2 linked regions of the Homo sapiens genome follow. The protein of the gene in region 1 interacts with the protein of each later gene in a biochemical or structural test. Each region holds a gene or a part of one and is shown on either strand. Other genes may lie near its edges.

Region 1 (3,946 bases):
CCTTCAAAACCTAACAATATCTTAAGATCAAAAGCATTCTTCATTTAGGTTTCGCTTTAAAGATAATATAGATCTTTGCCAAAGTCAGTAAACAAAGATGAACAATCCTTGTGTCAGGCCTCTGAGCCCAAGCCAAGCCATCGCATCCCCTGTGACTTGTACGTATACGCCCAGATGGCCTGAAGTAACTGAAGAATCACAAAAGAAGTGAAAAGGCCCTGCCCCACCTTAACTGATGACATTCCACCATCGTGATTTGTTCCTGCCCAACCTTAACTAAGTGATTAACCCTGTGAATTTCCTTCTCCTGGCTCAGAAGCTCCCCCACTGAGCACCTTGTGACCCCCCACCCCTGCCCACCAGAGAACAACCCCCTTTGACTGTAATTTTCCATTACCTTCCCAAATCCTATAAAACGGCCCCACCCCTATCTCCCTTCGCTGACTGTCTTTTTGGACTCAGCCCGCCTGCACCCAGGTGAAATAAACAGCCATGTTGCTCACACAAATCCTGTTTGGTGGTCTCTTCACACGGACGCGCATGAAACCTTGGTCGTGGGCCCTCGTGGTAGAGCCCATGTCCCCCAAGATTTCTTTGGCTGTGTTACCTTAGATTTGAACAAGCACTGTACCTAAGGCGGGCGCCTTCCTCCTCCCGCTTTCAGGAATGCCCTGCTCTGCCATTCTTTTGCTTTCTCACTTCTCTAATACACTTGCTTTCACTTTAGTCCGTGGACTCGCCCCGAATTCTTTCCTACGCGACATCCAAGAAGCCTCTCGCTGGGTCTGAGTGGAGACCTCTTTCTGGTAATAAACGGACTAGGGAGATTCGACTTTGAAGGTGAAAACAAAAACCACCATCCAGTTTATAAGAAGGCGCTCGAGGCCGGGAACGGTGGCTCAGGCCTGTAATCCCAGCACTTTGGGAGGCTGAGGTGGTGGGGCGGGGGGAGGGAATCACCTGAGGTCACGAGTTCGAGACCAGCCTGACCAATATGGTGAAAACCCGTCTCTACTAAAAATATAAACATTAGCCGGGCGTGGTGGCGCACGACTGTAATCCCAACTACTCGGGAGGCTGAGGCAGGAGAATCGCTTGAATCCGGGAGGCAGAGGTTGCAGTAGGCCAAGATCGTGCCACTTCACTCCAGCCTGGGCGAACAAGTTAAACTCTCCATCTCAAAAAAAAAAAAAAAAAAAGGGCGGCACTGGAAACAGCTGGGAGTGACAGGGCCAGGGATGAGGGATCGCAAGCTGCTGGTGAGAAAGGAGCTCAGAGGCTGCCTGGCCTACGGGCCAGGAGACCTCAGCGCAAAAAGCGCAGGACTCGTTCCCCTGCTCTACAGCTGAGTGCCCAGGACGGATCTCACTGGCTGAAAAAAACAGAAGAGAAGGCACCCAATGCAAAATCAAATGTCAGCGAACGAGGGGTCCTTTAACAGGCGGCCCACACGGCCCCTCCTGGCGCCGAGACCCAGCCCCTCCGGGCCACCCCGGCCAGGTACGACCAGCAGGGTCACCTGCGCGCGTCCCCCGAGACGGGGCCTCCTGATGTGAAGCGACCCCAGTGGCACCTCACACGATTCCCGAGGGTTGCGGGCGGCCTCTCCTCAGCCCTGCAGCTCCCACACGCGGACACCGCGGGCCTCGGCCATGTCCACTGACCGACCTTCCTCGCCGGAACTCCTCGCGCATCGCCGGCCCCTCAGCGGCGACTAGCGCGCGAACATCCTGGAAGACGCGTTGCCGGCCCCACGTGAGCCGACGCCCCAAAGCGCGGCTGCTGGCGCCGGCTACGAGATCAAGGTCGGCGCGTGCGCGCTTGCGCGAGACCGGCATTCTCAGCCCCGCGCCGGTTTCCAGGGAGCTGGGCGCATGCGCCGCGTAAGGGGCCCGGCCGGCGGAAGGAGGTGCTACTGCCGGAAGCGCCGGCGCGCTTGCGCAGTAGCTGAACGCGGGCGTTTCTTTCCTCCCTTTTTTTCGAATTGGTTTTGGGGGTAGATTCGAGTTACAAAATGGCCGCCCGGAGCGTGTTCGGCGCGGTTCCCCCAGCTGTCTCTGGCTGAACCGGCGCTCTCGCCTCCCTGCCGAACACAGCGTGAGGAGCCCCCCCAGGGATATGGTGTTTGAGTCTCTGGGCTTGCCGAGCACTAAGTCCTCTGAGTTCCGCAGCGCAGCACCGGAAGCGGCCGAGCGCGCTCAGCCCGGCGACCCCTGCGGGCTCCAGACCCCTGCGCCGCTGCGCCCCGGGTTTCGCCGCAACCAAGACCCAGCGAGTGCAGCGGCGGCCGCCGAGGAGGTGAGGAGCGGCGGCGGGCGCGGGAGGAGAAGAGGCTGAGGGCGGGAGCCTGGTGCTGAGAGCCCAGGGCCGGGAGGGCGGGAGCGGGCTCGGGCCTGGGAGGGGAGTGCGAGTGCAGGGCTGGGGACTGGACCCTGGGGAGGGAGGTGCGGGTTCAGCGCCGGGGGACGGGCCCCTGGGGAGGGGTGCGGGGCCGGGGGACCAGACCCTGGGGAGGGGCTTAAGGGGCTGGAGGACGGGACCCTGGGAAGTGGGGTACAGGGCTAGAGGTCGGGACTCTAGGGAGGGAGCCTGGGTCGGGCGCACGGGCCGGGCGGGGCGCGCGGTGGGGGAGCGACGGGTGGAGGGTGGGGTGGGATGACAGCGGCGACGCAGCCCCGGCTGTTTTTGAAGCGGGGCCCGGGCCCCACCGGGCTGCGGCGTCCGACTCGAGTGAGACTCTCCCCTGCGGCCCCGCCGGAGGTAGGGGGCTGGCAGGGCTGTCCTGGCGTGGTCTTCTCCGTTTCCTTCCTAGCGATTCCTCTCGAGCTTCCTCTCCCCCTGGCCGCCCCTCGTCTCTCTTCTCTTGGGCGCATTACCTCTCTGGCCTGTCTTACTGCGTTCCCGGGTTATTCATCACCCATTTGCTCGGTTCCATTAAGAACCAGCTTGGAGATTAGGTATTTCTGTCTCCTTACTTGGCCCCCTTGTTGTTTTCCTCCAACAAGGCACTTCACTATTAAGTGTAGCCAAATCTGTGTTTTCGTTTTAAGGTGATGTTGACAAGTTGAGCTTTCCAAGGGCAGAGCTACACCAGATGCCAGAGACCACATAACTATATCAGGCACAAATAATGTTTTTTTCCAGTTTACCTAGACTTTCAGTCTCCCACCACGTTGCTTCATACCTAGAAATCATGTCTAATTTGGTTTTTTACCCACAAACGCAAACGTTTTTTAAATTCCCTTTTATTGATTGTTTGATTGAGACTGGGTCTTGCTTTGTCACCAGGCCTCAGTGTAGTGGTAGCTCACTGTGTAGCCTGAAGCTCCTGGGCTCAAGTGATTCTCCTGCCTCAGCTTTCCAAGTAGCTGGGACCACAGGCGTGCGCCACTACGCTCGGCTAATTTTTTATTTCTATTCATCTAATCTATGTCCATCTTTATTTTCGTAGAGACCAAGTTGGTTTCCAACTCCTGGCTTCAAGAGATCCTTCCGCCTCCCTTAAGTTCTTCATAACAGTAGCTAGACATAAGACTCCAGGTGCCAGGCCTTGTTCTGAATATTTTACAGAGGGTTTTTTCTCCCCCCCACTTCTAGCATAAAAGTAAAATGTATTGTCTGAAGTGTCATGCTTTGAAATAAAATAGGGATTTGGTAAAATATTTGTAAAAATCTGGTTTGTAATCCAAGTTATTCTTCTTCCATGCTACAACTTTTACGTTTTGGAGGGAAAATGATAGTTTATAGCCTTTGCTTCTAATAAAACTTGTTTCTTTAATAATTTATTAAGCCCTTCCTCTGCTCCAGGCACTGTTCTAAGCCAGTCTTTGTTTATCTTAACTTTCTTAATACTTCCTGTTCCACAGATGAAGAAACTGAGGCACAAAAATTAAATATAACTTGCCCAAGTTCTCACAGCTAGAAAATGGCAAAACTGGGATGCCAG
Region 2 (3,600 bases), on another chromosome or scaffold:
CGAGAAGGAGCAGTTCCGAATTTACAGGTGATGGTAGCAGGCCAACTCCTCTAAAATGGAGTCCAGAAATAATGAAGGCAATGAGGGAAGGGGCCCAAGTCCAGGCTTTCTGAATTTTGGTGCTCCTTTCTGTTTTCTAGGTATTGTTGCAGAGTTGTGGGGGTACTGGGGTAGGCTCCTGGGCTTGGGGGCAGGATCCAGGGTCAGGATCCAGGCAGTATAAAAGGCCTTCATCTGCTTCTCAGGGTGGACATCTCAGACACGCTCATGTATGTCTATGAGATGTTGGGGGCCGAGCTGCTCAGCAACCTCTATGACAAGCTGGGTCGTTTGCTCACCAGCTCAGAGGAGCCCTACTCCTGGCAGGTACCTCCCAAGCCTGATTCCCTCAGCCTTCCCAGACCTGTCACACCCTCCTCCTCATCCAAGCCAGTGGCACCCTCTTTCCCCAGCACACAGAGGCCCTCCTCTACGGCTTCCAATCCATCGCAGAGACCATTGACGTCAACTATTCTGATGTGGTGCCTGGGCTCATTGGCCTCATCCCACGGATCAGCATCAGCAACGTGCAGCTGGCAGACACTGTCATGTTCACCATTGGTGAGACCTGGCACACACCCATGACCATATTCCCAGAGCCACAGCACCCAACCCTGGCCACAGCCAGCATGCTGGATCCTATCCAGAATGGGAGAGCCACATGCCTACACACAATCAGTGTTGTAACAAACTGACTGTCCTGGCAGGTCTAGGGGGTCCATCTGATGGCACACTGAGCTGCAATTCAGTGAGGCTAGTTTACCGTCAGTGAAACAGCAGTACTGGGCCTCTGTTGAGTAACCCCTTCCTGCTTCTCAGCTGTAAGGCTCATGTTTGAGCATGCACATGCATATGTCCTCTGAATGGGGCAGTACTCTGTGCTGGGGCTGCAACTTGACCCTGCCAGGAACTCTGCTTGCCTCAGAGACATGGTACAAAGCCAGCCTGGCCTGCCTCAAAGATCCTCCTGTCTCCCTCCTTCCTCCAGGAGCTCTGTCTGAATGGCTGGCTGACCACCCCGTCATGATCAACAGTGTTCTGCCCTTGGTACTGCATGCCCTAGGCAATCCTGAGCTGTCTGTCTCTTCTGTGTCCACCCTCAAGAAGATCTGCCGAGAGTGCAAGTATGACCTGCCTCCCTATGCTGCCAACATTGTGGCTGTGTCCCAGGTATGCAGGGGCCCTGGATGGTGCTGGGCCTCAGAGCACACTCTGCACTGTGCTGATACTACATTCCTTCTTTCTCCCCTCAGGATGTGCTGATGAAACAGATCCACAAGGTGCGGCTCAAAAGTTTCTAGGGGTCTCCTTGGAGGTCTTGTGGGAATCACTTATCCCTGAAATCCTGTTTTTTGGCCTTCCCCTTCCTCTTATCCCTTATTCTCTGTTTTTCTTCTCCCAAGAGGCTCATTTTCCTTCCTACCCCACAACTAGATGTGGCCAGGACTGACCATCCATGTTCTGCCCCACAGACAAGCCAGTGCATGTGGCTGATGCAGGCGCTGGGCTTCCTGCTGTCAGCTCTTCAAGTGGAGGAGATCCTTAAGAACCTGCACTCGCTTATCTCACCCTATATCCAGCAACTGGAGAAGCTGGCAGAGGAGATAGTGAGTGAGCTCTGGGGGCCAGGGAGCGGTACTGAGATGCTGTGGCTGATGAGGGGTGAGGTTGGAGCTGGCCCTCAGAGCTGAGGCTCAGTGATCTGGGGACCAAACTGGGGCTGGGAGATCTGGAGCTTGGTTTGCTTCTCCCTGCAGCCCAATCCCTCCAACAAGCTGGCCATTGTTCACATCTTGGGGCTTCTCTCCAACCTCTTCACCACACTGGACATCAGTCATCATGAGGATGATCATGAAGGCCCTGAGCTTCGGAAGCTGCCAGTGCCACAGGGACCCAACCCCGTGGGTGACATTTGCCCACGGCAAAGACATTTGTCTTTGCCATCCCCCCAACCCCCACCTGTGGGAATGTCATTGTCACTCTTCAATTCTGTGGGTAATGTTGTCATTGTTCTCCCTGCCCCGTGGGCGTGATATATTTGGTCCTCTGACTCCATGAATGACCTATAATTGCCTCACTCTGTAGGCAGCAATGTCATTATCTCACTCAGCTCTGTGTGTGATGTTGTCCTTGTCCCCAGCCCAATTAGGGTGATGTCATTGAGATTCCTCAGCCCCATGAGGGACATTGACGTTATATCCTTCAACCCTTAAGTGATTTTATGGGCCCCTGTTCAACCCCTAGCTCTGTAGGGCCTTCTACTTCAACATTTACTGTCCCCTGTGGGCACTAAGGATGCTCATTACCTCCTCCGCATGTAATAGTTCTGGCCTTCAAGTTGCTCCCAGTGTAGAGGAAATTCAGGTTGCTCAAATTGTCACAAAGCAGTGTGATAAGTCCTGTGGTAAGCTTGGGCATAGGTTTTGGGGTGACCACTTACAAGCTGCTTGATCTGGGGCAAGCCTCAGCTTCCCATTAAAAACTATGAACATTGAAATGTCTGGCTTACTCAATTCATAGAACTGTGCTGGATAGTAGATGTGGTCTTAAGTGAAGGTAGTTTGCATATTGTAAAGTTCTTTACAAATATAAGGGACTGCTTTAGTCGTTGTTCCCAGAACTCCCTCCCAGATTTCTCCAGGAGAAAAGGAAGCCATAGGCATCCTGGCCTCTCTGCTTAACTCCCCAACCCAGTTTCAGTTAGCCTCTTGGCTTTAGACCACCCCTGGGCCACTGTCATCCCACAGAGCTGCTTCTTTACATGGTAGTCATCATCCTGCCTTTCCTCACCTCCCAGGACCTCAGTCTGCTCTCTGCTCCTCCATAAGCTGGGAGAGCAGCTTAAGCCTGCATCTGTGCATTCCTTGGGGCTCCCTACCTCAAGCCTATTTGGAGGAGATAGCATCTCCACTTCTTCAGAGGCTAGCCCATAGCCTTGGTTTTACAGAGCAGAGATAGGGAGAGATTTTTTTTTAAGTTTACAAAGTTTTTGTAACCTTATGAAGCACTTGTGATATCTCTGCTTTGCAGTTTGAGGCTTCCTTTGAGATGATCCCTAGAATTCAGGAAATACTCCTTTTTCATTCATGAGAGAGTTCAGCAAACCACTTCTTCCCCCAGGGGTCCCATGCCCTGGGTCCTCAATGTGTGTTCTGGGGTAATAGGTCTGAACTGCTCCCCTCCTCCCTGCCACCAAGTCCTCCTCAAGTGGGTCACAGTGATGGATAGCAGAAGCGCCTCACTTCTTCCTGTGCCTTCAGGTGGTGGTGGTGCTGCAGCAGGTCTTCCAGCTTATCCAGAAGGTGCTGAGCAAATGGTTGAATGATGCCCAGGTTGTGGAGGTGAGCCCTGACCCTTGCCCTCCGCTCCCATAGTGACTGCTCAGAGGTGTAGCAGGGTAAGATGTTACTGCCACACTTCAGCTTACAATGGTTTGGAGAAAACAAGGGAGGTGAATCCTGCCCCATAGAGATAAGGAATCTTTTGGGAAGACATTTAGAACTCCCCAATATCATGAGAAGTGCTTAACGTAAGGACTCTAATATTAGGGTCGAGTGACAG

What was found.
Region 2: the proteins of NUP50 (region 1) and IPO13 form a complex in vitro, tested with the Homo sapiens proteins (one study listed by BioGRID).

What each region holds. Positions count from the first base shown.
Region 1 is NC_000022.11:45,161,999-45,165,944, forward strand, and holds the start of NUP50 (nuclear pore complex protein Nup50), read left to right. Parts: upstream 1-1,926; 5' UTR 1,927-2,298; intron 2,299-2,672; exon of another isoform or gene 2,673-2,957; intron 2,958-3,866; exon of another isoform or gene 3,867-3,946. UniProt on the Homo sapiens protein: Component of the nuclear pore complex that has a direct role in nuclear protein import. Actively displaces NLSs from importin-alpha, and facilitates disassembly of the importin-alpha:beta-cargo complex and importin recycling.
Region 2 is NC_000001.11:43,956,950-43,960,549, forward strand, and holds part of IPO13 (importin-13), read left to right. Parts: coding exon 1-27; intron 28-245; coding exon 246-366; intron 367-452; coding exon 453-600; intron 601-1,027; coding exon 1,028-1,209; intron 1,210-1,292; coding exon 1,293-1,319; intron 1,320-1,511; coding exon 1,512-1,646; intron 1,647-1,796; coding exon 1,797-1,940; intron 1,941-3,299; coding exon 3,300-3,380; intron 3,381-3,600. UniProt on the Homo sapiens protein: Functions in nuclear protein import as nuclear transport receptor. Serves as receptor for nuclear localization signals (NLS) in cargo substrates.